Regions from separate parts of the Homo sapiens genome. Here all the other regions are linked to region 1. The links come from fine-mapping of genetic effects on gene expression. A gene starts in region 1. Each other region holds a variant in brackets. All regions are shown on one strand. Distances are from middle to middle. Region 1 holds the start of EDEM3 (ER degradation enhancing alpha-mannosidase like protein 3). Region 2 overlaps EDEM3 (ER degradation enhancing alpha-mannosidase like protein 3). Region 3 overlaps EDEM3 (ER degradation enhancing alpha-mannosidase like protein 3).

Region 1 (10,219 bases):
TATTAACTTTTTCTTTTTTTTTTGAGACAGGGTCTCACTCTGTCACACCTAGGCTAGAGTGCAGTGGCACGATCTCAGCTCACTGCAACCTTCACCTCCCAGGTTCAAGCGATTCTCCTGCCTCAGCCTCCCGAGTAGCTGGGATTACAGGCGTCTGCCACCATGCCTGGCTAATTTTTGCATTTTCAGTAGAGACAGGGTTTTACCACGTTGGCCAGGCTGGTCTCGAACTCCTGACCTCATGTGATCCACCCGCCTCAGCCTCCCAAAGTGCTGGGATTACAGGTGTGAGTTACCACGCCCGGCCTATTAACTTTTCTTTTACCAAAGTTCCAATCACTGATGGCAAGAATTGAAAAAAGTGTTAAAGAAATTGCTGACTATATTTTTATTTGCCTCCTGTTATACTGCAATTGTCATTTTTAAAACTATAATCACAGATTATGAAATACTGGTAATAATAGAGCTAGCAAACAGAAAAGACCTCAGTTCCAGATCCTGACTATGAACACCAACAAAATCAAGTACACTCAAACTTGTGAACGAATTAAGTCCTGACAACATATGAATAATAACCACTTAAAAACATTTCATTATTTAAAAAAAGACCTTACCACCACTTTGCTAAAGCACTAATTCTTTGTAAGTTTACATATATATATATGTTTATATATATATAATTTTTATATTTGTGGTTTACAGCTCTAGACTCTTATCCTGTCCTAAGCAGAAAAAAAAAAGTTTAAAATGTCCCTTTCAGGAACTCATATCAATGAATGGAAGATGGAAGTCCTCTTTTTTTTCCTTCCCTGAAATGGAATACGAGATTATTACCAAGAAGTAGAAATTCCTATAATTGGCAATGGTAGTGCCTAGACATGTATATTACAAATGACATAAGCTTTAACTTGCTAACTCAACTTTACAAGCATTCAATTTTCAAGACTGTAAGTAAATCATGATTGCATACAAGGAGAATACACTATTTTCCAATCCTTACATTTATGCAGCATATGATGAGCAAATTTTAGAACACATATTTCAAAGTGGAGCTATTTAATATCATTGCTCTTACACATAGAAGCCTAACAAAGTCACATTTAAATACAGAATGGTATAATAATTACTATACTGAACAGAAAAAAAAATTTCCATAATGTTTTATCTATTCAAAAACTGGATTAAAATGTATTGGAAATCAGACCCAGTTCAAAAATTACACCACTCTTCAGTAATTTCTGTAAGTCGGCTTTTTCTCTTTTTTTGAGACAGAGTTTTGCTCTTGTTGCCCGGGCTGGAGTGCAATGGCACGATCTCTGCTCGCTGCAACCTTCGCCTCCAGGTTCAAGCGATTCTTCCTGCCTCAGCCTCCCGAGTAGCTGGGATTAAGGGCATGCGCCACCACACCTGGCTAATTTTGTGTTTTTAGTAGAGAAGGGGTTTCTCCATGTTGGTCAGGCTGGTCTCGAACTCCCGACCTCAGGTGATTCGCCCGCCTCAGCCTCCCAAAGTGCTGGGATTACAGGCATGAGCCACCATGCCAGGCCAAGTCGGCTTTTTCTAAAGTTACGTCTCCTGCCCACGTGCTATAGAAACTGGATTGTTTTCTACTTCATTTTTTAATGAAAACATAACATTAACAAAATACCCTGTTGCAAAATTTTAAAAACAAAACCAAAAAGCTTATTCCATGAAGGATAAGACTACATATAACCAGCTAAGTAATTCCACAAAGTGTAAGTTATTGAGCAATTGCTTACTATTCATGACAATTCCAGTCTTTATCAACTATTTGGTTTGTTGGTGGGGAGGGAAAGGGGTGGGGCATTTTCTGCTTTTTATCATGAATCATTATTTGGGCTTTAAAAAATGCACAGGTAAACCTAATGAATCAAAGTTCAGTTTTCTGAAAATTCCCAGAGAAAGCAGTCATATAATTGTGTATTTGTCGTTTATAGCTCTAGATTCTTACCCTACCCTTACTCAAGGGTAGAGCAATCTAACAAGCCTAAATAATTGTAATTTCACTTTCATAAATGATCTCAAAATTTGAGCTGAAATTTCAAGCCAATTTGGTTGAACTTTTCCAGTTAAAAACTAATTTTGGTCAAAAATGATTTATCCAATGACTCTTTTACAAATAAGTTTTTAATAAAAAATGAAGAAAGGGTAGTGATAGTCAAATAAGATTCTTGTGGTTCTTAACAGACTTGATACTTCTCTTCCAAGTCTAATGAACGTGCAACATACTGGAGAGAGCCTGGCTCTGGGATCAGACAGGCTTGGGTTTGAATGCTGGCTCTACCAATTACTAGCTTTGTGGCTGAACAAGTCAACCTTGGGTCTCAACTTCCTCATTTGCAAATGTGGATCATATTCATTGGGAAATAGGAAGGAGTACAGAGATAACATATGTAAAGTATTCACAGAGTGAGATATTTGGTAAAACTTATCAATGATACATTAAATTCATATGAGAGAAAATGTAAGATATTTATTAGAGTTTACCGGTAATTTTATTTTGATGGTTGATACTTCAGCTTTTTTCCATCAAGTGACCTTTATTGCTATTTAGAAACGAATACAAGACTCTTTGCAATGATTTAAAGTACATAAAGTAAGACCTGATGGTTCCACCACCCCTCCAGCCTAACCCCATGAGATAATCTTCGTTCCACTTTTTTTCTGAGCTCAGATTTTTTTTTTCTTTTTTAAAAAAAACATGGGATGATACTATACATATTATTCTACAACTTGCATTTTTTTTTGTTTTGGAAATATATTCTGGATAGGCTTCCAGTGACGTACTTCCTTCTTCTTAATGTCTCAATATTATTCCATAATATGAACGTACCCTATTGAACCATTTCCTCCAAGGAAGAGCTGTTCTTTCAAAATGCACTTTTTTTTTTTTTTTTCGAGACAGAGTTTCGCTCTTGTTGCCCAGGCTGGATCTATCTCTGCATTAAGAGTGCTTTTATTTTCTTAGGGTAGATTCTCAGAAATAGAACTGATGAATCAAAGTGTGCACAATTTAAATTTTAGTAGATACTACCAATAAGTTACAGCAATTTACACTCTCACTAAGCCTTTTTTTTCTATTCCTTAACTAACCAGAACCGTATCCTTGTGTTTTGTATTATATTTACTAATCTGATGGGCAAAAACCAGCTAGCTCCTCGTTTTAATCTGCATCTCCTACGTTTATGGAGGTTGAGTAACTTTTCATGTTTATTTACCACTTCCATTTCCTCTTCTGGCTTAACCGTTCATGCCTTTCTCCCATTTCCTACTGGTTCTTCGCTTTTTTCTTATTCATGTGTAGGACCTCGTGTATGTATTACTCTGAATTAAATGGTGTAAATAGAATTGATAATTTTAACACACTTCCAAGACGGATAAAAACTACTGAATAGGTATACTTGAGACTTTTGAATAATTTCCCCCCAAACATTCTATTATGAAAATACAGTGCAAGAAAACACTGCAAGGAAATAGTAAAATGTGTAAAGTTCAAGTTCCAATGAACGCCCCCTTTTCCGTAACAGGTGTAAACATCATTTCCTTAACTACTGTGAGATCAGCAACATTTTCCCAGTTGGAAGCTCACTTGCGCGAGAAAGCTAACCATGCTTCGGTCGACAGGCAGCCAACCGCAGAACTCCAGCGCGCAGCGATGCGGGCTGTAGCCCCCTTCTTGGGCCACTGACATGGCAGCCGCGTTGACACACCGCGCCTGGCTTCAAGGAGCCTGCACATGTCACCGGCGGCCAGGGCGACACCCCGTCAGCTCCCCCGAGGTCAGGTCGCGGGCGGCGGTTCCCACCTCCCCGGACCCTGTCCACCCCTCTAGGGTTCTCGCGCGGGAAGAGCCGTTCCAATCGCGACAGGAGAGGCCACTACGCGACCGGGTCGCAATGACAGGCACCCCTCCTGTTGTCAGCCTCACCGAGAAACCCACCCCAGGCTGCCAGCACCCTTACCCAAGCTTCTGTTTCTCCTCCCTACTCATGGGCTCGGCCCCCGCCGTCCACACGGAGGTGGCCGACACCAGGCAGAACGCGGCCGTCGCCGCCACTAGTCTCCATCGCGCTCGCTGGGGAACCGGGGACCCACAGCCCCGGCCGCCGGCTTCGCTCATGGCCCCGCGGTTCCGCGCACGCGCAGCTGCTACGCCCGGCCGGTGAGACACATTGCTGGACGCTGGTGGCCAGGGGGCTGCTAGCCGTGCCGAGACGGGGCGGGATGCGGAGTAACACGGACGGCCGCCGGCGCCAAACTGTTTCCCGAAGCCACCAAGCCGGTCCCCAGCGCCAGCGCTGCCACCGCCCTCCGCCCTCAGTATCCCGGAGCGCCTCCCCCAGCTTTCCGGTGTCGTAGTCTAGGAAACCGCCTCCCCAACGTTACTTCCGGGTAGGGCCGAAGCCGTAGAGCCTCAGGACCAATGGAGACCTCATGGGAGAGGGGCTGTCTCCGGCGACTGGAGAGGGCATTGGCCAGGAGAAGTGAGACGTGGACAAAAGGCGGGACTGGGAAGGGATCTCTCGCTTCGACCCGCCTCCGACCCGCGGAGTTGCCCCCTGAGGACTACCAGTCCCAGTGTGCACTGCTTCTTCCCCGGCTCTCCCGCGAGCCGACTCGGAGCCGTGTCTCTCGCTTCTACCCGGGGTAGGCGCGCTGCACCCTGGGACTTGCGGTCCTCCGAGGTCGCCAGTGGTTGCTGGGATCCCACCTCCCCCTTTCCTCGGCGCCCTACAGTCAACCCTGTCTCGGTGGGCTGCGGAGTCCCGGGAAACCCGTCAGCTGTTTATCTCTCTTCCTCAGAAAGTTGTTTCCCAGAGAGCTGGCTGAATGAGGCGCACTGTCCCCATGTCAGTGCTGCTGCGTTAGGGAATAGTGTTGGAGTAGTCGTCTACCCTCAGGGAAATTCCAAAACACAGTAACAGCAAAATGAATTGAGCCTTTGAAGGCATTGCGCTAAGGTTTTTACTCGCAATCATCTCATGCACTCTTCTCAACTCTGATAGAGTAAGTACCACCATCCCCCTTTTGCAGACGAGAAAACAGAGGCTTAGAAAAGTTGGTTAACAAGAGCTCGTCACACTGCTGTATTAGAATCCATCCAGCCTCTGATTCGGAAGCCCTTGCATTTAACCACCGCGCAGTACTACAAGGATGAAGGAGCACGTGGGTCCTCGTACATGATTAATAATAGTTACCTCAAAAGCTCAATGTAAGGAGAGCTGTGTGGGCTGCAAAGAAGGTTTAATGAAGGAGATTGGAACTTGCAATGAATTTTGATGACCGAGTCCCAGGTTAACTATTGGTAAAATGACACATCGGTTCCTCTTGAAAAACCACATTGTTTTTCTAGTGTGGTCATTCAATAGGTGCGGAGTTTAGGAGCTTCGATGTGATCTCTGTGACCACAGTAAATTACTTACGTGTCCTTTAAGCAGTATTCGGCGGTCTTTCTGGAAACGTTTCTTCCTTGACTTTTATCACCTTACCTCTTACCTCTTAACCTCTTACCTCTTCTCTGGCTGACCCGTTTTCCTTCATTCTCTCGCTACTTTATATTAAAATACAGGTGTTCCCTTAAGGTTTTCTTTTTGTCCTTTTTCTCTCTGTACTCTAATTATTCCTTGGTGATTTCTTCTCATAAGGATTCAGCCAACATATCTCTGTGGTTGATTTCTAAATCAATATCTGTCCTGATCATTAGACCCACATTTCCACCTCCCTAATAGAAATGTCCTAATGTCTAGCCCAAGGGTAGCTCAAACGTAAGATGTTTTCTGATTCAAATTAATGCATCGGAATCATTGTCAACTCATCTTTAGCCTTCGGGGTCCACGTGCAATTAATTACCAAATTATATAGATTTTACCTCTTCTATCTTTCAGATTATTACCTTTCTTTCTATTCCCACTTTTGCTCCATTCAAGCTTCCATTACCTCTCTCCTAAACTATTGCAGTGTCTCAATAAATGTTAAATATACTTGCTTCCTTATTCCTGCAGTTTTCTTATCTATAAAGTGGGAATAATATGGTCCTTTTATCCAGTAGTCCCCAACTTTTTTGGCACCAGGGACCACTTTTGTGGAAGGCAATTTTTCCACAGGGTGGGGGAGACACCGTTCCATCTCAGATCTTCAGGTATTAGATTCTCATAAGGAGCGTGCAACCTAGATCCCTCGCATGTGCAGTGCACAATAGGGTTCATGCTCCTATGAGACTCTGACGCAGTTGATCTGACAGGAGGTGGAGCTCAGGTGGTAATGCTTGCTCGCCTGCTGCTCCTGAGAGGCAACTGACTGGTACCAGTCCACTGCCCCAGGCTTGGGGATCCTTGCTTTTATCTACTAACGTGGATGCTGTGAAAACACATGAAGTCATTTCTGTACAATATTTAATATCCTTTATTTTTTTGCATGGATCTCCAATCCTACATTGGTTCCATCCTAGTCCTCTTTGGCAGCATTAATGTTGAAGTTACCGATTATCTCCCTGCTGCCCTACTCTCCTCTATACATGGCTGTCAGAATTGGTATTCAAGAACATCTGCAAACCCTCTGAATACCTTCTTTCTTCCTTCTAGTCTGCCCTGCCCTCAAATCCTATGTGATAACTAAATAATTCCTATTCTGTATCCTTTCCATGCCTTTGCTCACACCATCTCCTATGCTACCCCATCATCTTTGTACAACACTCAACACCTGTTAAGGCTGGGCTCAGATTCCATTTCCACAAAACCCTTCCAGAACCTTCTAGTTAGCAGAAGTTATCCTCTCTCTGTGCCTCCATGGTATTCTGTGTCTTTGTTATTGTGTTTTTCATAGTCTGCATACCCACTACATTTTAACCACATGAAAAGTATTGACTTTAGCTTATTTGTAGGTTGTCTTAGTCCGTTCTCTGTTGCTATAATGGAATACCTGAAAGTGGGTAATTTATAAAGAAAAGTAATTTATTTCTTACGATTCTGGACTGGGAAATCCAAAAACCCGGCACCGGCATCTGGTTGGCTTCTGACGAGTGCCTCGTGCTGCATCATGACATGGTGGAAAAGCAGGCACGTGTGAAAGAGGTGAAACACGAGGGGCAGCCTCTCTGCATAACAACCCATTCTGGCGGTGACTAATCCAGTCCTGAGAGAATAAGAACCCACTCTAGCAAGAAGTAACCCAGACCGGAGAGAGCAGCATTAATCCCTCTTAATCACCTCTTAAAGGCCCCATCTCCCCAGATCACCATACCAGGGACCACATTTCCAACACAGATATTCTGAGGGACACACTCAAATTATAGCATAAGGATATTCTGAAACACCTAGCACTGTGCCTCTCCTGCTGTAGATGCTCAGTAAATGTTGAATATACTTGTTTTTGTATTCCTTCAGTTTCCTTATCTAAAAAGTGGGAATAATATAGTCCTTTTATCTACTTACATAGATGCTATGAAAACACATGAGGTCACTTCTGTACAATATTTAATATTATCCTTTCTTTGGACAGATCTGCAATCCAACATTGGTTTCATCCTGGATCCTCTTTGGCAGCCTTGGTAATGAAGTTAGCTAAATCAATACATGTGAGTTGGTCTTGGCTCTTGCATAGAGAACATTACAAACTAAAGGTCAACACCAATCATATGGTATTTGAAAACTAAGAACAAATAAAATAGAAAAACAGTGACATTCAGTTATATGGAAATATAGTCAAGTCAATAATTTGAAGTGGATTATTAACAATAACACAGTTTTCTTTACCTTCCTGATGTTCCAACCCTTTATAAGAAGTCAAAATTGACTATGAACTATCATTAAGAACATACTAAAGAAGAAGTACTGGCTTTTAATGTTTAACATTTTCTAGCATATTTGTTTGTTTTCAAGTTAACGCTGCATATTTAAAGATTATAATGGGAAGCCAGAACATAATTCTTTTTCGAACTGCTAAATAATAAGTATCTTTTTTTCCCTTGTTGAAACTCAATTTCTAGCCAATGATTGAGTCTATTTTTCACTGATCTCAGCAACCTTAAGTAGAAAATCTAGTGTGACCTAAAAGCTCTAAAACTTATCAAAGGTGGAGCCCATGGAAATAAAAGAAAAATATATTCGCAAAATGCATTTCAAAAAAGAACACTTTTTTTTTTTGCTGGGTGCAGTGGCTCACACCTGTAATCCCAGCACTTTGGGAGGCCGAGGTGGGCGGATCACCTGAAGTCAGGAGTTCGAAACTAGCCTGGCCAACATCATGAAACCCTGTCTGTACTAAAAATACAAAAATTAGCCGGGTGTGGTGGCAGGCTTCTGTAATCCCAGCTACTTGGGAGGCTGAGGCAGGAGAATCGCTTGAACCCAGGAGGCGGAGGTTGCAGTGAGCCAAGATCATGTCATTGCACTCTAGTCTGGGTGACAAGAGCAAAACCCTGTCTCAAAAAAAAAACAAAAACAAAAACAAAACAAAACAGAACAAAACGTATTTAACCCCGTAATGAAAATAATGGAAATTCTCAGCTAATTGGCACTTTATGAACACTAGGAAAAATTCACTTACGTTATTTTAAAACCTATACACTTAGTGATAAAAAGGATGTACGAGTTAATTGAGAGAGTCTAGTGTTGTACAGAGGGAAAAAGACTGGTGGAAAGCACATCAGAAGAATAAGGATAGAACTTTTAAAGATATAAAGATTTTTTATGTATAAAACCCATTAAAAATGGTAAGAAATAACAGCCATTTCTAAAATGCCCTTTAACCAGTTAACAATCTGTTTGCACAGCCTTGTAGCTTATGTAAATATGCATGCTCACTTTCCTGCTTGGATGTGTCAGAAGTTAGGGAGGGATAGGAGCCCTGGGTAGAACCATATGGATTCAAAAACACAGGGAGGGGCTCCATTTTAATATTATGGCTCAGAAATAGTCCTAGGAAGCTGGGACCAGCTGTGCAAAACTGGTCATAGAACAGCAGTTGCCCCTAAATGATTTGAATTCTTTAGTACTACAGTTCTAATTACTCCTGAAACTAGTATGGAATTTGGGAGTGGTGATTTTGTCATTCTTCAAATTGCTTTTCCTATTCTTTGATAGCATGCAGAATTGACAACAGTTTTCTTCTAGAGAACCCAATCTTGCAAACATTAAATAAAGACAGTAATTATTCTGCATTCACAATTAGTGACTTTGAGGCCTTAGAAAGAGCACCTCATGACAAAGATACTCGGTGAATGTCGTCAACTGACTTCCTGCGTGGCTGTCGGACTGATTTTTTCAAATTCTAAGAAAGAGAATGAGAGATTCAGATGATTCACCTCCCCAAAAGATGTCCCCAGGGCTTTTTCCACCTCTCCATCTTGATTTGAGATCTTCAAAATCACTTCACCTTCAGATTATTATCCCATTTCTCTCACTGGCACTAGCTCCAACTCTCTCAGGCAAGAAAGTTTGCTCATGTGTCATGATTATTTGGTTGGGTCACTTATTTAGTGGCCATTTTCCATTTACTTCAAGTATCAGAAGCAAAACCAAGTCACATGGCTCTTCGAGGGAGTACATTTTGTGTTTGTTCCCTCTCTTAAATCCCCATTTCACCATCAGCATAGTTCCCACTTATTGGTACAGTGTGGCCACAGGATTTAGGTGAGCACCATTCAACAACAGTTGCACAGGTACCATTCAGGCCAAGAACAATGGCTCTGAGACAGCTCTGCTGATTATTGGCTGGGCTTCCTTAAGCAAATGACTAAATCTCTGTGCTTTTGTTTCCTCATTTGTAAAATGAGAATAAGAATAATACCTACCTCACAGCATTTTTAGAAAGATTAAATGGTTTAATTGTTATGCCTTCCTTTTAGGGATGTTGTGAAGATAATGAGATGGTGTGTGTAAAATATTTAGTACAGTTTGAAGGAACTCAATAAATAGTAGGTATCCATATCATGATTATGAGGTAAAGAGAAAACATCGCCATTGTTGAGAGTAGGATTCAAGGGTGAGTGCAGCTGCTCCAACAGCACCCATGGCTCTGGTTTTATTTTCAGCCCTGAATCTTTTTTTCTTTTTTAATTATTATTTTTTTAAAAACAGAGAGAAAGAGAGACAGGGTCTCACCATGTTGCCCAGGTTGGTCTTGAGATCCTGGACTCAAGCGATCCTCCCACTTCCGCCTCCCAAAGTGCTAGGATTACAGGTATGAGCCACCATGCCTG
Region 2 (10,219 bases), 55 kb before region 1:
AATGACAAGAAAAAAAATCTCTGTATGTTCAATACAGATGCTTTTTTCTTCTTGAATATTTCCTATCCACAGTTGGTTGAATCCATGGGTGCAGAACCCACAGATACAGAGGGAGAACTGTAAGGAGATTTGAGAAGTTTCTTCAAAAAGTTCCTTCAGAAAGTGACACTTGAGCTGGGGTTTAAAGTATAAGATAATGTCAAAGAAGGGAGGGAAGAGGATTTATTTAAAAACCAGAAAAAACAAAGGAAATGTAGACATGCAGGAAGGTGTGGTGGGTATTGCTGGGGCACAGAAAACAATTCCCCAAAATATGGTGCTTCAGCATGATGAATGCTTGGAAAACTGAAAGGTCTCAGAAATAAGCCTCAGAACCAGTCTGTCTCTGACCTTCCCCTGCCTCCCTGTCTCTCTGATCCTCTTTCCTGAAGCAACTGGGGGGATTCTCTCTGGAATTTTCTTATCTAAGGAAGCTTCTTTCCAAATGAAATGCAATTGTCTCAAGAATCCCTCCCTAGGACTCTCATCAAATAACGAGAAAAAAAATGAGCCATCAGAGAAGAGTAGAGACAGGGGTCCTCACCACACCCAAACAGACTTTTCTTCTGTTCTTCTGAGGACAGCTGAGAGATTAACTGGGGGACTTTATCTAGATACTATGCAAAGAGAATCCTTTACCAATCATTGTCTAAGCACTGGACCTCTTCATTCCCTAGTATTCCTCTACCCTAAGAAGAGGGTATTTAAGCTTCAACCACCTGTCCCCTTTCATATTTTGTATGGCTCCTGTGCACACACGTACACATAATAAAATTATTATGCTTTTCTGTTGTTAACCTGTTTTTGTTTTTTTTTAACCCGGGGTGTCCGCTGTAACCCTTTATGATGGGGAGGAAAGGATCACCCCTTTCTGCCCCTACAATGCATATATGTTCACCCTGATTAGATGGGATTACTTGACTCTGAAAGTTTACATTCTTAGGGTTTTTTTTCCGGAGGGGAGGATCAGCAGGGGGTGGATTGAGGAATTCCACACAATCTCTGTCTTCTAAGCTGTGAAAAAGGTACAATTTAATTAGGCAATTAGGGAAACCAATGGTGCAGACCAAAGAAAGAAGGTAGCTGGCTACTTACAGCTTATTTATCCTAGGTTCCCTAAATTCAAGAGAGAACAAAAAGAAAAATCTCCAAGTTTCTTTCTAGATTGTATTATTCCAGATTAGAAGGAGAGGAAAAGGTGTAGGGTTGTTTTACCTGGTAATGAAGATTGTGCTTGTGATAAAAAACTCTCCTAGGGTTACATATACGATATTATTTTGGAAATCTAGCTGATGTAATCGGACAAGAAAGTAGAATAATCAATGTAAATATAGAAAAAGATCAAATTATTTGTATTTTCAGATTGTGATCGTACACTGTCAAAGCAACTTTAATAAAAAAATACTATTAGAATTGATAAAAAAAATTTGGTAAGAAGACTATGCAAATACCAATAACTCCTTTGTAGTAACAATAAATAGTTAAAATATAATCATTAAACCTTTTCATAATAAAAAGCTACAAAACATAGAATTAAATTTATTATAAAAGGTATAAGACCCACGTTGCTTAAATAAAATCATAATGAGAACATAAAACAAGATTTGATTAAATTTATAGGTATATTCTTAAATGAAGTCTTAATATTTAACATTTTCCTAATTTATATGTAAAGTATGCAATTATATAATTTCAAAATGAATCTCATTTGTACTTCTTGTTTTCGTTTTAGAACCAGATACAATTAATTTAAAGTTTCTATGGAACAGCATATGTCAAAGAGAAGCCAAGAAATTCTAAGAATCAGTGAGGGGAGAGTTGCCCTATCAGATAATAAAATATACTCAAAACAGCAAACTTTTATTATTGGCAAAGGAATAAACACATTAGTAGAAGAGAAGGGTAAGTCTAGAAGCAGATCCAACTATGCAAGAATATTTGATATATAGCAAAGATGGTAGTTTAACTGAAGGAGAAATGAGTGGTTTGCTTCATAAATGGTATTTAGTAACTGACAACTCAATTGGAAAGACTCCTAACTTTTATTTTAAAATTCCATATGATTTAGAGACCAAAATGTAAAAAATGGTAAAAATGCCAGAAGAATTTAGGAAAATATTATGTAAAAACAGGATGGAGTGATCTTCTGAAGTGAGACAGAAGACCCAGGAGCCTCAAAGGAATTAATATTTCTGATTACCTAAAAATGTTATGAAAGTTACATAAACAAAGTGAAAAGATGACATGTTGGGAAAATTGTGTGTGTGTGTGTGTAACCTCTGTCCCTATATGTGTGTCTTTTCTAGATAATTTATAGAACCTCTATTTCTTTATGAGTATGTATGTAAATATAGGAAATGCGCACACACACAAACAGAGAGGTCCTATAAAATATCTAGAAAAGACACAGAATCTTATTTAAAGAAGGCAAAATGCAAAACATATGACTAGGCAATCCATAAAGAGAAAAAACAAAAAATATACCTATAAAGGGAAATATGCTGACTAAAATAGGAAGAAACATGTACTCTCATATCTTGCTGGAAAGGATGTGAATTGCTACAACCTTTTTTGGAATGCAACTTGCAACATCCATTAAAATGAAAACGACCCATATACTTTCTGCCAGCATTTCATTTTAGTAAATCTCAATATTCTAGAAAAAGTATGCATATCTAAGAAGATATGTACGAGAATGTTACCTACACCATTGTATACAGTGGCAAAACAAAAACCTGGAAATAATTTGGACGCCTAATAGTGACATGGTTAAATAAATTATGGTACAGTGATAATGCAAAACATAATGCAGCTTTCAAAAGAATAAGTTATGCTATCCTACTAACTTGGAGGAATGTCTTTAATATAGCTTTAACTGTAAAAGGCAAGTTACTGAATGATACATATATTTAGAAATGTATAAAGCACTAAGAAGAATATAAAAGATTACACATCAAACTGCTAACATTGGTTGGTTATCTCAGAAAGATGAGAGATTATTTAAAAGTTTTTAATACACTTCTGGATTGTTTAATTTGTTACAAGTTTAATTTTATAAAGTTTTTAAAAAGATACCAATAACTATTCTATGCAGCACTATAGGAAAGTCACCAGGGGCCAACTAAATTTAAATGTAGAGAAGCAGAGAGAGAGACAGAGACAGAGAGAGAGAGACAGAGAGAAGAACTTTGAAGAAGATGCCCATGGAAGAAAATATTTTGGTTTTCGCAAGCTGAAGGAGCTATAGAACCAGAAATAAAAGCAACAATCAGGAAAGTAAAAATGGCAGTTAGAGAACTACAAAAAGATAGAAGAGTTAAAGTCTGCCACATTGCTACAAATCTTGATCCTAAGGTGCCTGTTTTCACCAGTATGTGAGATCAAAGTCGTAAGAGCATAACAACCACAATATTAAATTCAGGAATGGTACATCAGAAACACAGAAAGAATGGAGAAAATCTCAAAATACAGAGAAACAAAATCAGTATGTTTTAATAATAAAAGAGGAAGTGAACCTTGGCAAAGACTTAGAGATTGGATGTTTTAGAACCATTCATTCATTCATTCATTCATTCATCTGTACATTAAATGTTTACTGAAAGCAAGGAATATAGAGATGAGAAGCAGGTAAAGAACTATTTAACTATCATAGTAGAACTGTATTAAAAGGACACCCTTAAATTTTACCTAGGAGGTGGCATTTGAAATTTAGGATATCTAAATGTTCTCAAAGAGGAAAAGGGCCATGGGAGAGGAAAAGGGATTGATAGGGAACTTCCAGAAAAAGGGAAGAGATGGCGCAAATGTGAAAATGCATGAGAAAACATGTCTTGGATGGAGAAGGGAAGGTTAAGTATCAATTCTGCTAAGAAGAATGTTTCAGATGTTTCTCTCCAGGTAGAGTTCATCTGCATATGTACTAGATTTTTCTCCTAGGAATCAAATCCTTTCCAACAGCAACTTAAGGTGTGCAGTTCAGCTGTAGAACAGATTCACACCAATCAAATTCAGTGGGGGATAATCAGGAAAAGTGACCCTGCCTGACTTAAATCAGAGCATTGCAAATGATGGAACCTTTTTTTTTCTTTCCTCCATTTTCTCTGTCTGGCTCTTTACCAGATAGAGACAAATACAGTTGCTTGAAAGCATTTGTCTAGAGCCCTTAAGGCACTATAGGCTTACACTCTAAGCTGCAAGCATGACAATGAATTGGAACTTAAAAATGCTGATGTTTTTTTCCCTGTGACAAATACTATTGAAAAAAGGAAATTTACTCTTAATTGTAAACTGCTTCAATTTGGACCTAAAGGTAACAAAACATTGCCTTTTGTTTGTGGGCACACGGTTGGAATAATTAAGTACCTTTACAAACTGAAATTTTGGAAAAATGAAACACTGAGAGATATGATATTGAAAATTCTGTTCAACAATAGACTGTGGATAGCTTAACTTTCAGAAGTGTCACAGGTTTGACCTAAGGAAGCAACATCACTTGATAAAATGCTAATGCTTTTTGGCTTCTAAATGTGTATTAAGATGACCAGAAAATTTCTGCTAGCAGAACAGTTTCAGATACATCTATACTAATGGCATGGACTTATCAGAAGAAGAAGACAGGAGTGAAGGCTTTTTAAGGGCTTCTATTTTCTGTATTAAATATGAAAAGGACTTCTTAATCAGCATTGTGTGACTTCATATGGAAAAATACGTATTTGTGGAATGACATTTCTAGAAAAGGCAATCTGGAGAACATTTTATTGTTCAGATTTTAAGGATGTTGTTACTTAGTGTACTTATATAATCTGTTAACTAGTACCTGTAATGGTACAATATGGCCTGATACATAGCTGGGAGACAAAAAAGGGGTGCTTTCTGAATCTTGTTCAATATTTCTCAAAGTGTAGCTGAGGAAGCAGCTACAACACAATCACCCGGGATGTTTGTTTGAAGTTTCAGATTCTGATTCCCAATCATAAAGTCTGAATCAGAAAGTCTGATTGAATATTTGGAGCAGGACTCAGAAGCCAACACTTCTAACAAGTGTATCTGTTGATTCTGATGCAGGGGAGAAACACTGATGTATGTAGTAATGGTATAGGACAAATGATAACCGCTACAGACTGTGTAGCTTCTTAGGATATCCTAAGTGAATACATTTGTTGATTTCATAACACTATTACCATTGATTTCTGTTACATTAATAAATATTAACAATTAGACTGTATCTTGTTGCTAATTAATATAGCTGTACAGTTCTATAAAGAGCTATTACACAAAAAGGGGGCTTTTCAATACTTTTATCAAAAGATCACTCTATAACAATCACAGTTCAATAAATTTATAGACTAAAGTTTTCAAAAAATATCTTTTAAATAATGCCCTTTTAATGCAAGGTCCTTAAGGGGATACTGTTCACCAAGAATTCTTATTTTCTGGTAGAATTAATCATGTCTCATAACCTTTCTCTGGTACAGGAAGCACATGCTGTACCATAATCCTGTAGTCCTAACCCATGTACCATACACACACATGAGCTTTTAAAACAAGTCAATACTTTAAATATTTTACATTGTGTTCAAATAAAATGTGATCAAAGTAATAAATACTAAAACAACAATGCCTTTGTTAGAGTGACTCTTGTATGGACATAGACATAGAATTCATCTATTGTATGGGATGTATAATTATTAGAATTTAAAATTATTATGTGACTGCTGACTAGACATGAAAATAATCTAATTACGTTACACAAGATATTATCATGGTATCCACTGAAACAAAATTATATATGTACTTGAGTGTGTGTACACACACCCAAATACATATATACGTATATAATTTAAGGCTTGTTAATGCAAGATACTTACTACTATTAATAATGTAGCTTGGAATCATTTTACCTTTTAATATTGCTGCTGAAATTCCAGTGGTAGCACAAAATAGGGGGAAAAAAAGCAAATGCATTAAAGAGTTACAAGAAATAATAATTTGCCTATGTTAGATGTGCCTAAATGCATATATGTAGGCAAGAAGATCTGAGTTTAGAAAAGGGCCCAGGAAAAAAAAATCAGGTATACAGAGGATTTAAGACTAGAAAACCTTTGTATTCTGTTCTGTTTCCATCTATACATTGTTATATACAAACAACCTACTTGCTCACTCCATTGCTCATAAATAATTGACATTTCAAAGAATCTCAAAGAAGAATAAAGCAATACAAGAAGACAAAATTAGGCTAGCATGATTATGCTAGCATGATTATCACCGAACATTTTTTTTTAAATGTCCCACTTGGAAGTCACATTGAATTGAATCAGTTTCCTACATATCTGTCAAACACCCCAGGGGATGTAACAACCCTGTACTATTATGCAACTTCATCTATTTAAGGGTATGGGAGAACTTTAGCTCTCTCTTCAGGTCTCTCCAGCAGACAGGAAAGACTGCTACCACAAGCAAGATCTGAAGGCTCACATTCCCTCATTTCTCCTCTATCCCTGGGTGTGAAACTATGTAAGAATACTAGTAAGGCCTTGCATTTATATTGTAATTTGGGTTTCAAAGACATTTCAAATTACTAACAAACATTTTGGCCTACAGAGGACTATCTACTCTCATAAATTAAGACATGCTATCTTGTTTTTCAGAAACAGCCATTTGTAACTCTTATATCCATGTGATAAACTTAGATCTCATTGGGAAGAAGCTGCTAGATTTCTATTGCCTTCACCAAGACAGCAGTCATTTGATTATAGGTGGCCTGTTGAGACTAACTACTATGATATTGTATACAACATTCTATATATGTCTTCTCATTCCTTATAAAAGACATGTAAGATGTAGTATCAGTGAAATCAAATTGTGAACATTTCCGGATGTTAAAATGGCTTTCCTGAAGCAGTCTCTTGTATTTTTATCACCTGAACAGACTCAGGGCAAAAATTACAAATCACACATAAAAACATATGTCTAAAAACATCCTAACTCAGAAAACAAAGCAAAATAAATGTTTTATTATTCTTATTTCCAAAAGAAAAATATATTTTGAAATCATCTTCTAAAAGTTTTACTTGTTTTCACAGTGAACCCCCCAAAACAATTTTTTGTGACTCATTCTTGTTATCAAACTAGCAAAATTAATATTACGCTGCATAAAAAAACAAATGGTATTTTACTCTTACCTCGATCTTTTGCTTTATCAGAGAGGAGCACTTCTACCTCCTCATATTCCCGGATGGCATCCAGTATGATACTTCCTTCTTTGCTGAATAAGAACAGCATGGGGATCTTGATGTCATCTGTATCCTTTCCATCACCTGCCATCTGGAACAGAG[G/A]GGCAGTATCACTGCTGCTCCCCTCATTGTCATCTAGCCAGAAAATAAATACAGCAAACATCAAAATATCCAGCCATTAAAAAGATCTATCTACTAATTGTTACTGATTTTTTACAATGACAGAATTAATTTTATGCATCAAGAACCATAAAAACCAACATAATTTTTGGACCCATTAATTCTCATAGAAACGTATCCAAAGGAAATAATTCAAAAGTAGCGAAAAGCCCTATGCCCAAATAATTTTACTAGACTATTTATAATTGTAAACAACTGTACACCATTATAAGTAAATTATAATGACCTACTTGATAGGACACACAGAATAATAATACATTTAAAAAGTAGAATACAGAATTCTATGATTATGACTATAAAAATTTCATATGCTTATGGAAAAGCCTAGAAAGGAAAAAATCAATGACTCGGATTACAGTGATAGAACTATGAATGAATTTTATTGTTGAAAATTTCCACTACTGGCATGATTACATTGTTTTACCAAACTAAAAATGGACATTTCTTTTTTATATAATGCACACAAAGAATAGTTATGACTATAGTGCTTCTTCCTCTATAAGCTAAACTAAACAGTATTGCTATTTTGCATTGGTTAAATAATAGTAGTAGAACTATTAATAGTAGTAGTACCAGCAACATGCTGTTTTACTGAAGACGACAATCACGACCACCTCCAAATCGCATGCCAGTCTCCCAGAAGAAACTATCTGTCCTGTCTCAGGGTGCTCACTCTCATAGGACCTGCTAAGTGCAGAATGCATGACCCATCCTCTTGGTAATAATTGATTAGACAAAAGATGGCTACCTGACCCTGAGTCTCTCTGGGGGACCTGGAACTGGCACACAGAAAGACTGTTTCAGTTAGCAGGGGGTAATAGTCCAGTTGAATGACACAGACTTAGGGGCTGAGGCTGCAAACTAGAATGGCCATTTTGGAACTGAGGAACAAAGAGAGAGAAGGCTGGTGAGAAGCTGGAAAATGAAGCAGAATTGCAAAGAGAAGCAGGGAAGAAAAGTTCAGAAGGACCCAGAGGTAGAGATACAGAGAGAAAAGTGAAAAACATTCACTATCATGGATCCTGGTGATTTTTAGTTCCCACTTCTACCTCCTGGTGAATCCTAGTTGTATTTGTACTGTTTAATTCACTAAAAATAATCCATTTCTGTGTAGTGAAAAAACCTCCCTTCTTAAACCAACGTAATTATCTCCTGCAGCCACATGATTTCTAAGATAATTCGTATTTCTAACCCTTGCAACAAAAAACAGCTAATTCCTAATTTATTCATTTATATACAATTAAAACAAAAACAAAATGCTTTGTCAGAAACAAAAAACTCAGGAGAAAGAAGTCAACACAAGAAAGTTTCTCATTAAAAATTAAATTTTTGGCTGGGTGCGGTGGCTCATGGCTGTAATCCCAGCACTTTTGGAGGCCAAGGCAGACCACTTGAGGCCATGAGTTTGAGACCAACTTGGCCAACACAGCGAAACCCCTTCTCTACTAAAAATACAAAAATTAGCCAGGCTTGGTGGCACGTGCCTGTAATCCCAGCTACTCAGGAGGCTGAGGCATAAGACCTACTTAAACCTAGAGGTGGAGGTTGTAGTGAGCCAAGATCATGCCACTGCACTCTAGCCTGGGTGACAAAGCAAGACTCTGTCTCAAAAAAAAAAAAAAAAAAAAAAAAAAAAAAATTTCTGAGAGTAAGGATCATCATCTCTTATTTATTTATCCACAGAACCCAGTATACCATTTTCCAACTAATAGCTACCAAAAAAAACATTTGACGGGCCAGGCTTGGTGGCTCATGACTGTAATCCCAGCACTGTGGGAGGCCAAGGCAGGCAGAACACCTGAGGTCAGGCGTTCAAGACCAGCCTGGCCAACATGGAGAAACCCCATCTCTACTAAAAAGAAAAAAATATATATAAAAATTAGCCAGGCGTGGTGGCAGGCACCTGTAATCCCAGCTACTCGGGAGACTGAGGCAGGGAGAATTGCTTGAACCTGAGAGATGGAGGTTGCAGTGAGCCAAGATCACGCCACTGCATTCCAACCTGGGTGACAGAGCAAGACACCATCTCAAAACAAACAAAACAAAAATTGACAATTATTGCATACTATAGAAGATCATGAGAATTAGACTTCACTGAAAAATATAAAAAACCAAAATACTACACAAAGAAATATTTTTAAACATTAATGCATAAATTCTACACTTTATACTTTACATTTTCATTTTGAAGTCTTGGTAAGAACTGTTCAAAATGATAGTGATGGTTAATATAATAAATTCTGCAATAAAACTAATCTAAGTGTGGGAAATACCCAAGGATAAAGAGCATGATTTAAGTCAGGGGTCGGCAAATCTCTTCTGTAACTGGCTAGATGATGAATAAATATTTCAGGCTTTGTAGTTCTCTCCTGTAAGTACTCAACTCCATCACTGCAGTTCAAAGCAGTCATAGACCATACACAAACAAATTGGCATGACTGTGTCCCAATAAAACTTTTATTTACAAAAATGGGCAATGAGCTGGATTTGGCCTATAGTCTTGTAGTTTGCCAACTGCTGATTTAAGTCATTAAACAGGACTTCTCCTAATGTTTATTAATAAAATTTATGCATCCATTAAATCAACATAATAAGTGTTAATATTCTGTTTTACCTGAACTATTTTTTTTTATTTACCTTAACTATTGGGCGGCAGGGGAGGGGGGAATCCAAAATGGATTTCCCTGTGAGAGAAGCTGTACAAAAGAACTCACAATCAGCATATTGTGAGCCCAGGTCTTACAGTTCTTTCTGAATGTAAACTCCTA
Region 3 (10,219 bases), 42 kb before region 1:
ACAGATCCAGCCCAAACTGAGCTGGTCCAGCAGTCAATACTACCCTGCCAAAAAATGGGTGGGAAACAATTTGTACAGCTCGTGGAGGCAGCTGCTGTTCTTTTTGTTGCTGACTTGACAATTCAATCATCTCCTGCATGAACCTCAACCCATCTTCAGCGTCGATTGAACTAGCAGCCTATGAAAAAAACAAATTCATTTTATCCTTCCTTTCTGGAAACTTCCACCAATTTTTTGATTTCCTAAAGACACTGTACTGTAGTATTCTACTCTACAACTTCTTCTTTCACTTTAGGTCACCACCAAGTATTTATGACCTTATTTGTACTCAAAAATAATACTTTCAGAAATAGTATTTCTGAAAATAACTTATCCGTATTTTTTATCAATGTCACTTTCGCTATTCTATAAACCACTTTTGATTCAGATTGAGAACTGGACTTCTAGCGAATGCTCAAATGCTCACTTTGCTTATTCTCCCCACTGGCTTTCCCTCTGAAGAAATAAACCTCATACCTGACCCACACTTTCCCTCCTTGAAATAGTGAACAACCAGATTCAATTTGATTCAAAACATATCTGTGAAGCACTTATTCCATCTCAGCACTTGCCTAGGCATTGGAGAGACAGTCCTTTAAGAAATTTGTGTCTGGAGGAGAAAGACATGTAAAGTTAGCTATGATAAAATTTCTCAAGTGGGAAAGTGGAAAAGGAGCACAGATGAGGGAACAATTGATTCTGCTTGTGTGTACCTGGGAAAGATTTAGAATGACACTTGAATTGAGTCTTAACAGAGGGAAAGTTGAAGAATGACTATAATAGAAAAAAATAAGATGATTCCTGATACTTTACAGGAAAAACCAACAAGACATGATAGAAGTTAGAGGATGGAAAAGGATAAGAGGAACTGGAAGAGAAGAAGAGTTCAAACCTATCCTGAAATTTCCAGCTTTGATGACTTAAAGAATGATGATAGGTTTTACTGACATGGAGAGCCAAAGAAGGAAACATAGGTTGAGGTGAGGGTAGAAAGAGAGTAAACAAGAAAGAGATAATTCAAGTTTGGACAGATTGAGATTGAGATGCAAGATGTATGAGAGGTAGATGAAAGTTGAATTTAATAGTAAATTTAGGAATCAGGATTCACATACATAGCTAAGAAGTCATATGTATAAAAATGATAGCTAAGCTTGTAGAAATAGGTGACACTGTTGAAGAAGAGTATATAGAGAAAAGAATATCATCCAGATTCTTGGAAACTGTTTACATTGAGTGGTTGTGCCAAGGAGAGCTACAAAGCAATAAACAGTGAAGTAGAAAAAGAACTTTGTTTCTGAAATATCCTGGGAAGCCAAAAAGGGAAAATGTTTTATGAAGGGTTCAGCCAATAGTTACAGAAAAGTTAAATCATATAAGGATCAAGAGGCCACTTGGCAGTAATTATGCCATTGGCAGCCTAAGTAAGTAAAAGCAATGTCACAAGAGATGTCACTCCCACTGAGGCCAAATAAAATACAAGGAAGAAGGAAGAATACTCTTAAAAGAAGGAAGGATGTGGCAAGAATATGGATGAGATGAAAACTTGAGGGTGTGATGAAGTTGTGGGAGGGTTGAATTTGAGATTAAAGGATACCTGAATATGGTTCTAGGTTAAAAATTATTCAGCAAACTATGTGGTTTTCTCAGAATCAATATACTAATAAGGTAAATAATTTAAAAACTTTGTGTTATAAAAACTTTCAAAGTAAAAATCAATAAAAATTTCTCAAAAAGACATGTTATTTTTCCTAGGCACAGACAAATAAATACCTATGATGAACAAAATACTTAAGATTCAGTAGCTCTTTGGAGACTAAAATGATGTAAAACATGGAGATATGAATATTAAAACTAATTACTAGTTTTTGAAGTTATGTTGTAAATAAAAGTAACAGGGGAAAGCCAATGGACTGAGAAACAGAAAACTTAGATTTGAGTCCTGCATTTGATTATATTAACTTCAGCAAATTACCCAACCTAGCTCTGATTTATTTAATTGATTTATACTATAAAGGAGTTGAATTAGGTGACTTTCCAAGATACTTCCAAGTCCTAAAATTCTCATTCTCTCACTTTAAACAGTATATTTAAAGTGTTTAGAAAGTTGAAATCCATTATCTTATTAAAGCTAATGCGACCAAAGAAAGCAGGGCAGAGACGGTATCTAATTAGTGTAGCAATGTCTTACTTGGATTGCATGTTGGACCAACTGGACTCTCCCATCTTTGAGGTGAATCAAACTCACCCCCATCTTCTTCAGGATTTCTAAATGCTCAGGGTTAGTGGCCATGAAATCTCTGGCTCTCAGAGGGGGTTTAGCTCCACTCCTGAAACTCTCCTCTCTGCTAAAAGTAATTACAGGCAAGGCTTAAAAAACTATAAATTAGAATTGGCAAAAAACACATGTCAAATAAAAATAATGTTACTTGCAAAATTGCTAGTTTTAGAACTAGTGAAACTGGAATAACTAGAAAGTATTTTCTTACATATAATTTAGGTTAACAAGTGGTATAGCTTTCAAATATAACATTTTCTAGTTATAAAAGTTTGTATATTATCTATATAAGGCAGTATTAGTCAAGAGAACTATAACTATTTAAAGGTACAGAACAAGTTTGCTTGGGGATTTGTTACTATTGATGTTATCCTTTAAAAACACAGATTTTTCTCCCAATATTTTAAAAGCAAATCAATACTTGCATCAGTGAATAATAACACTTATGTAAAAATAATTTTTAAAAAGTCCTTGCAATGGCCTAATATAACTACTCGTCAGAAAATGAACTCATTAAGCCAATTTTAACAAGCAAGAATAAGTACTCCCTCAAAAAATCAAATCCAAACAAACAAACAAAATACCTGTATTTTCACTACACAGAAACTATAGACAAAAGGAAATTTTTTTTTTTTGAGATGGAGTTTCGCTCTTGTCACCCAGACTGGAGTGCAATGGCGTGATCTTGGCTCACCGCAACCTCCACCTCCTGGGTTCAAGCGATTCTACTGCCTCAGCTTCCCGAGTAGCTGGGATTACAGGTGCCTGCCACCATGCCTGGCTAATTTTTTGTATTTTTAGTACAGACAGAGTTTCACTATATTGGCCAGGCTGGTCTCGAACTCCTGACCTCAGGTGATCCACCTGCCTTGGCCTCCCAGTGTCCTCAGATTACAGGCGTGAGCTATCATGCCTGGCCAGAAAATATTCGATGAAACTATTCCATGAAAAATGAGTTATAGAAGTTAAAAACTGTTACATGCTGCCCACTATTATTACCTTAGTTCATAAAATAAAAGATATATTGAAAGTTTCCAAAATAATAAAAAAGATATTACTGCAAAATAAGCTTTACTATCTAACTTTACTACTAATTTTTATTTTAACCAGTGATAGCTACATACCTCAACATTTTCGGCCTATGTGAATGTCTTCTTGGCTGTTGATACATGCTCCCTAAGTTCTCTGTCATTTACTAAGAAACAACTTTGATATTAGAAAATATAAAATAATACATCTTACACTCTGATGATGCCTCTAGGACAGCTCTTATCCACCACATTTTTCAAGGGCTCACGAATACTTTGAGCATACAATGGGTCATTAGGAAAGAGGATCTGAGTATTTGGACAAGTCCAATCGAAGTTACTGTCATCCAGTTCTGTATATTCCGAGGTCTACAAGAGAAAAACATTTTATGTAAACAGAAATAATTATTTTACTTAACATAATTTTTTTTTTTTTGAAATGGAGTCTCACTCTGTTGCCCAGGCTGCAGTGCAGTGGCGTAATCTCTGCTCACTGTAAGCTCCATCTCCTGGGTTCATGCCATTCTCCTGCCTCAGCCTTCCGAGTAGCTGGGACTACAGGCGCCCACTACCACGCCCAGCTAATTTTTTGTATATTTAGTAGAGACGGGGTTTCACCATGTTAGCCAGGATGGTCTCAATCTCCTGACCTTGTGATCCACCTACCTGGGCCTCCCAGAGTGCTGGGACTACAGGCATGAGCCACCGCACCTGGCCTACTCAACATAATTTTTAAAAGGAAACAGTTAATGAAATATATAAGTGTATACAGGATGCAATAAAAGAAAAAAAATAGGAAAATGTATATATTTATTCTTACCATACATATATTTATTGAATTCTACTCATGGATTACTTTTCACTTGGAAAAATAAAACATGTAGAAATAAAAAAGAGAATAAGACATTTCATTTAAAAACTCACTGTGTTCTTTTTAGAGATGCTTTGATTTGTAGTAGAGAGCCAAAGAGGTAACAGATGAGCTTCTGTTGTAAAGATGTAATCTTCTATGTCAAAAATAATGTCTTCTTTATCAGCAAATAACAGGTAAAGATATTTAAACATTTCAGCCAAGAAGAAAGAATCCATTCTAAAATAAAAAGTCACAAATAAATATAAGTAGATAAAAATAATTTAAATGCCAACTATATGAAAGCCA[T/C]AGAGTCAAGGTTAATAATCCTGTCTATACCAACTTAGATGTTCAAAGAACTATAGAATGTATCAATCTACCAGGGGCAGAATAACCTTGACTCCAAGTATATTCTATGTTAATGAAAAAGACCAGAGGAGTTGTCTACCACACTGATACACTGAATCTTGTGAATAATGCAGACAAGATTTTTCTATAGGCCTTTCAATGAGGGAAAGTTCTCCATTTCTTCTATAGAGAATCAACAGCAGGGAGGTAACTGATAAATTTTACTAGTGAGAATCATATAAGAATCTTCCATTAAATTAGAGAGCTGGAAAAAGTCATACAAATTTGACGGAATTTATTATGTAGCTATTTAAGTGATTTAAAAAGAAGGCTTTAAATGTAAAGAAATTACTTGCATGTAATTTCCTGGCCAACATGGTGAAACCCCGTCTCTACTAAAAATACAAAAATTAGCCGGGTGTCGTGCCAGGCACCTGTAATACCAGCTACTCAGGAGGCTGCAGCAGGAGAATCACTTGAACCCAGGAGATGGAGATTGCAGTGAGCCGAGTGCAGTGTCACTGCACTCCAGCCTGGGTGACAGAGCAAGACTCCGACTCAAAAAAAGAAAAAAATAGTTACATGAAAAAAGTACAATGCAAAGTCACACGGGCTATGATTATAACATGCTAAATATTTATTTACCTGTTAAGAAGGGAATGTGGAGAAATAAAGACAGTAAAACTATATGTGTTTTTACAAATGATTTAATGTTATAATGTTTTAACAATTTAAGAAAAGTTTAAATTAAAAGTGTCAGGAAAAAAGCATAGCTGGTAGATGGAGTCATAGTAACATCAAATTTAATTCACTACTCCCCAAAGCATCATAGGTTTTGGCAGTAATAAACAACTTCTAGTTTACTGGACAAGTTGCACAATTTCATACCTCTGGCCAAGCACAATTCCTGGCACACAGTAGGCACTCAATAAATGTTTACTAAATTAAATGCAAGTTTAAACAGCGTGATTAAAGAATGAGCTGGAGAGGGAGTAGAACAAAGAAGTAAAGAACATGGGCTTTGGAAATAGAAAGATCTTCCACTAATTAGTTCTGTCACCATGGGGATATTATATAAGGACTATGAGCTTCAGTTTATTCTTCTGTAAAAGGAATATAACAATACACTCATGACATTGGTGTGAAGACTGAGATATTAAATGTCAATTATTTAGCATAGCACTTGGCATACATATGAGATTGAAACTACAGCTATCATTTTTCCTACATACACATGATTTTTTATTTTGGAACAAAAACTCACCTGAAATGTTTCAAAACATGTTTAGCCATTTTGGATATTAATCTTTTTAGACAATATAAAAACACTTTCCTGTTTATCTGCAATACACTTATCATAATTCAACCTTTTCTGATGGACTGACAGTTATTACATGAGCAAATGCTATCTTGAGAACTGCAGACAGATGAGCAGGATACTGATAATTGGCAAATACTAGAATAGACAATTTGTAAACATTTAGAAAAGAACAAGGCATGGTAAGATAACTACAATATGAATTGGGCAAAGCTAGCAAGTTGAACATCAGATCATATGATCTATTTTATATTTTAAAATCATAAAAATACATAAATAAAAATACACAGGCATTAAAAATGTCTGGAAGCCTTTATAAAATTGCTAACAGTGGTAATCTTACGCAGTTAGGGGACAGTGTCTTAGCAAATATTTTCCTATTATTTTTGCCATTTACATTCTTTTCAGTAATTATGATTAGGAAAATACAGATATTTCCATTGTGAAAAGTGTGTGTGTATGTCTGTGTCTGTGTAGATGATGGTAACCTGGAGGACAGTGATAGTGCTTAGATCTATAGGGTAATAAACCACCACATGCAAAGAGCCTGTAACTGAAAGCTCTTGAGTGCAGTGCCACAAGGCACTGGTTGGGGTCCAACCAAAACTTCTTCCTAACAGTTTGGATGAAAAAAATGTAAGGTATGCTCATCTAAACTATAGATCATTGAAAACTGGTAGTTTAGCTAATGAGATTCAACCTCTAGACCAAAATCTAGAAACAAAACAAAAAAAGAAATTTTGCTGAGTTAAATATAAAAGTTCTAAGTTTACACTAAAAAAAAGAAAACTTGGCTGCTCAAAGGCAGGGTGGAGAACACTCATTTGTCAGCAGACCATACAGTTAAGTATGTGAAACTAGTTGATCACAAGCTCACTGTGAGCTGAACATAATAAAGCTCCTAAAAAATCTAAAGCACATCTAATAACACAATATGATGAAGAATGGTAGTTCTTAACCTTTCATTTGGCTAAAGACATCTGAGAGGCACAACAATCCCCTCAGGAACAGTGAGTCAATGAAGCAGTGGTCCTCAACTGGATAGAGGGTGGAAACTCATCAGCCTCATAGAACATTAGTGACCCTTTGCCTGAATACAGACAGTTATGGTGCTGTGTGCCAGACACATCTTGAGTATGGTTAATTCTGGATGTGATATTTTAAGAGTTATTATATATACTGGAATGCAATCAGAATGGGGCAATGTCAGTGGTAAGAGGTCCAGAAACAATGTCATAAAAGGAGTATTTGGTGGGGAAAAAAAGAAGGATGTTACACTTTGAAAAATAGAATTCTGAACAGTAAATCATGTCTTCCTCTGCAATTCTTCAACTTGTTACCTCTTTTGTATTTTAGAACATATCACATGGTTGTGATTATTTCTTTACACACCTATCTTATTCACTAACTACAAGTCATGGGAGTGCAGGGACTGGTTCTATTTTATCTTTCTACCCCACACTTAAGTGCAGTGGCTGGCATACAGTAGGTGTTTAATTATTGTTCTTTAATGAATTGCCAGTATAACATCATTGTCAAGAGCCAATCTGCCTAGATTAGAATTCTGACTTAATCTTACTAACTGTGTGACCTTAGGCAAGTTCCCTAACTTCTCTTTCCCTTGGTTTCTTCACCTTTAAAATGAAGACTGTAATAGTACACTTCAGAAAGCTGTTGTAAGGATCAAATTAGTTAAACACATAAAATGCTTAGAAGACTGTCTGGAGTATAGGAAACAGTCAATAAATGTTACAGGCAAATAAATACACAAGGTATCTGCTTTTATTTCTTGCTATTACTTGTATGCCTGCTTCCAGAACCTAACCATTTCTCATTAGCTGTGGTTAGGGATGGAGATTCGAAGCCTAATTAACCATTATCCGAACACTAAGTGAAGAACTAAGGGACAACTCTATGGGTAGATGATGAGTGCTGTGTTTCTCATGTCTTCAGTCTCACTGCCTGGAACTTCTTTTACATCTTTCTTCTTCTAATTCTTGGTTATCCTTCAGGACATAGGAGCCTTCAGGAACCCTTCGCTGACTATCACATCCCAACTTGTGCTTCATGCCCCTTTAATATGTTTCAAACACATATACAATGTTTTAAAAGTCTGCTTATTGGCCTGCCTTCAGTGATTCAAAGACAGAAAGGACTTATCTTCATATCTTTAATCCTCAAAAACTAGTAAGAGCCCTGGCACATAAGGGGCCTCAGTAAATATTTCTGGAATGAACATTTGCTAACCAAATGAACAAATAAGCTTCAGCATTCATTTAGAGATGTGATAACCAGATAAGTGATCTTAGAATAAGGAGAATGCTTGTGAATTTCATGTGGAGCACTTTTTATAGCTTGAATACTTCATACCATCTACATCTATCCAGTGTCTAATGAAACAGAAACTACCACTGGTCTTTCCCACTCCTGCAAGTCAGCAACGGTGTAAGTACACACAGCTTTTGAGGAATTCTTGGCCGAACACAAATCACATTCCAGATCATTCCTCATCTTGGTAATTTCTAATGTCTTATGTAATATAAAAGGAAACTATTATCAAAGAAGAAAAAAAGCCACATTTTAGATAGTCCTAACACCAAGGTTCTGATATTTAACAATCATCGATTCATTTATTTAAAAATCATTTGAGCACCTACTATATGCCAGGCACTATGATAAAAATACAAACTTTTCAAACAAATTAAAATTAGTGTATTCAACAGAGTTTAAAAAAGTAAACACAAGGAACAAAGGTTTCTATCCTTTGTAAAAGAATTAAACTTATTTGAATCCTAAATGGTAGCTGCATTTTGTGTTGTTTCAGAGAGACCCTGAGGAAAGAGGATGTTAGCAATTGTTTTACCTGTCCTCATGACTTCCAGTACGAACATCCTTCATGGCAGCAAATCCGCAAGGCACTCTAGCATATTTATTTAAATTTTCAATAAGTGTCTTCCCTACTTCAAGGTAGTAAGGATCTCCTGTAGCCTATTAAAAAGGAGAATATATGTATAATATATATAGCTTATATATTACCACATATCCATTCATTTACCAAATATTTATTGAGTACCTACTAGGTGCCAGGCACTGTATCAGGCACTGAAGGACATTATATAGAACTGAGTTCTGAAAAAAAGCTATGAATCTGCTTTACAGAATTTCTTAAATACACAATTATAAAATTTAACTATATAACCTTAGTTTTTAAATTTCTAATGCTCAGAAAGGCTGCCTGAAGAAAGGCAAGAGACATGCTTTAGAAAGCAGCTCTAGAACATAAAATTTCTCTTTAAAGAAATGTTTACATAATATTTTTTAAAGAAAAAAACCTTGCATGTCAATTCTTGCATCATTCAATAATTCTATGGACTAGATGAATAAGAATCATGATATATCCAATCATTATAATATTAAAAGGGGACTCTGAAAACCCAATTACTATTATGAAAGAATGAGAGATCCAACAGAGAATGGAGGCTAAACTTTAAGTAAAATGGGGTATATTTTCTTACTTTATATAAGAAGTAGGTACTTTCTGCAAATTCTGGCCTTAAAGGATGTTGAGCCCAGTGTACTCTGAAATCTGTGGTAAATGCCTGAACAAAACAACATACAAAAGGCATAAAAAATGTGATTAAATACACAAGTAGTTCCAGAATATATAGAATATATATAAATAGGTAAAAGCAATTAAAATAGCAATCAGGACATTTTCATCAATAAAACATCAATTTTCATTGCTTAAAATAACAATTCATTTTGCAAAGGCTGCTATTTTTACCAATTAAATTGATTATTTTTTCAGTGATCATTCTGGCTATTAGAAAACTCAGAAAAACTCCATAATGAAACTCAGCAATGCCACTACATGGGTCCTGGTGGTAAACATAATTGTGTTTTCTTTTTATCCTTCCCTCTACTTTTTCCTCTGGATTATTACTCTCCTAGTTCTCATATTTATTTTTAAATTTTTTAAATCGACAAATAAAAGTGACATATATTTATGGTATATGACATGATGTTTTGATATATTTATACACTATGAAATGGCTAAATCAAGCTAATTAACATATGCATTATCTCACATAGTTCTCTTTTTTTGTGGTGAGAATACTTAAAATCTCTCTTAGCAATGTGTAAGCATACATATTTCATATTTTAGCTTATATTTTCTAAAAGCCTCAAATCCTTTGTGGAATAAGACAGAGCATTATTTAGAAATAAATAAAATTAGTCTATTTGAAATTTATTCAATAACATAATCAATTGGTTTTTAAAAGAAAATAAAAATAAAAGCAAACAAAAACTTTTATGGGAGCTAAATAAAAATTTCATTTGTGATAGATGTATTAATTGAA

Evidence for each region. PIP is the estimated chance that this variant, and not a neighbour inherited with it, causes the effect.
Region 2: its variant is fine-mapped to the expression of EDEM3 in whole blood (INTERVAL, PIP above 0.99). The same link has a PIP of 0.9 or more in fibroblasts and lung.
Region 3: its variant is fine-mapped to the expression of EDEM3 in whole blood (INTERVAL, PIP 0.93).

Annotation. Positions count from the first base shown.
Region 1 is chr1:184,750,506-184,760,724 of GRCh38, forward strand. EDEM3 (ER degradation enhancing alpha-mannosidase like protein 3) reads right to left here and starts at 4,353. Exons shown (of 20, transcript NM_025191.4): 1 at 3,984-4,353. The coding sequence starts at 4,141. LOC105371649 (a long non-coding RNA gene) reads left to right here and starts at 4,669. Exons shown (of 3, transcript XR_922357.4): 1 at 4,669-5,028; 2 at 7,519-7,594. RefSeq lists enhancers at 3,937-4,036, 4,507-4,606.
Region 2 is chr1:184,695,591-184,705,809 of GRCh38, forward strand. EDEM3 (ER degradation enhancing alpha-mannosidase like protein 3) reads right to left here. Exons shown (of 20, transcript NM_025191.4): 19 at 7,221-7,406. Among named protein-coding and RNA genes, the nearest start is that of EDEM3, 54 kb to the right of the region's middle. The variant G/A (reference allele first, on the strand shown) is at 7,374.
Region 3 is chr1:184,708,167-184,718,385 of GRCh38, forward strand. It overlaps EDEM3 (ER degradation enhancing alpha-mannosidase like protein 3), which reads right to left. Exons shown (of 20, transcript NM_025191.4): 12 at 9,374-9,457; 13 at 8,722-8,846; 14 at 4,267-4,432; 15 at 3,557-3,711; 16 at 2,228-2,381; 17 at 1-178. Among named protein-coding and RNA genes, the nearest start is that of EDEM3, 42 kb to the right of the region's middle. The variant T/C (reference allele first, on the strand shown) is at 4,502.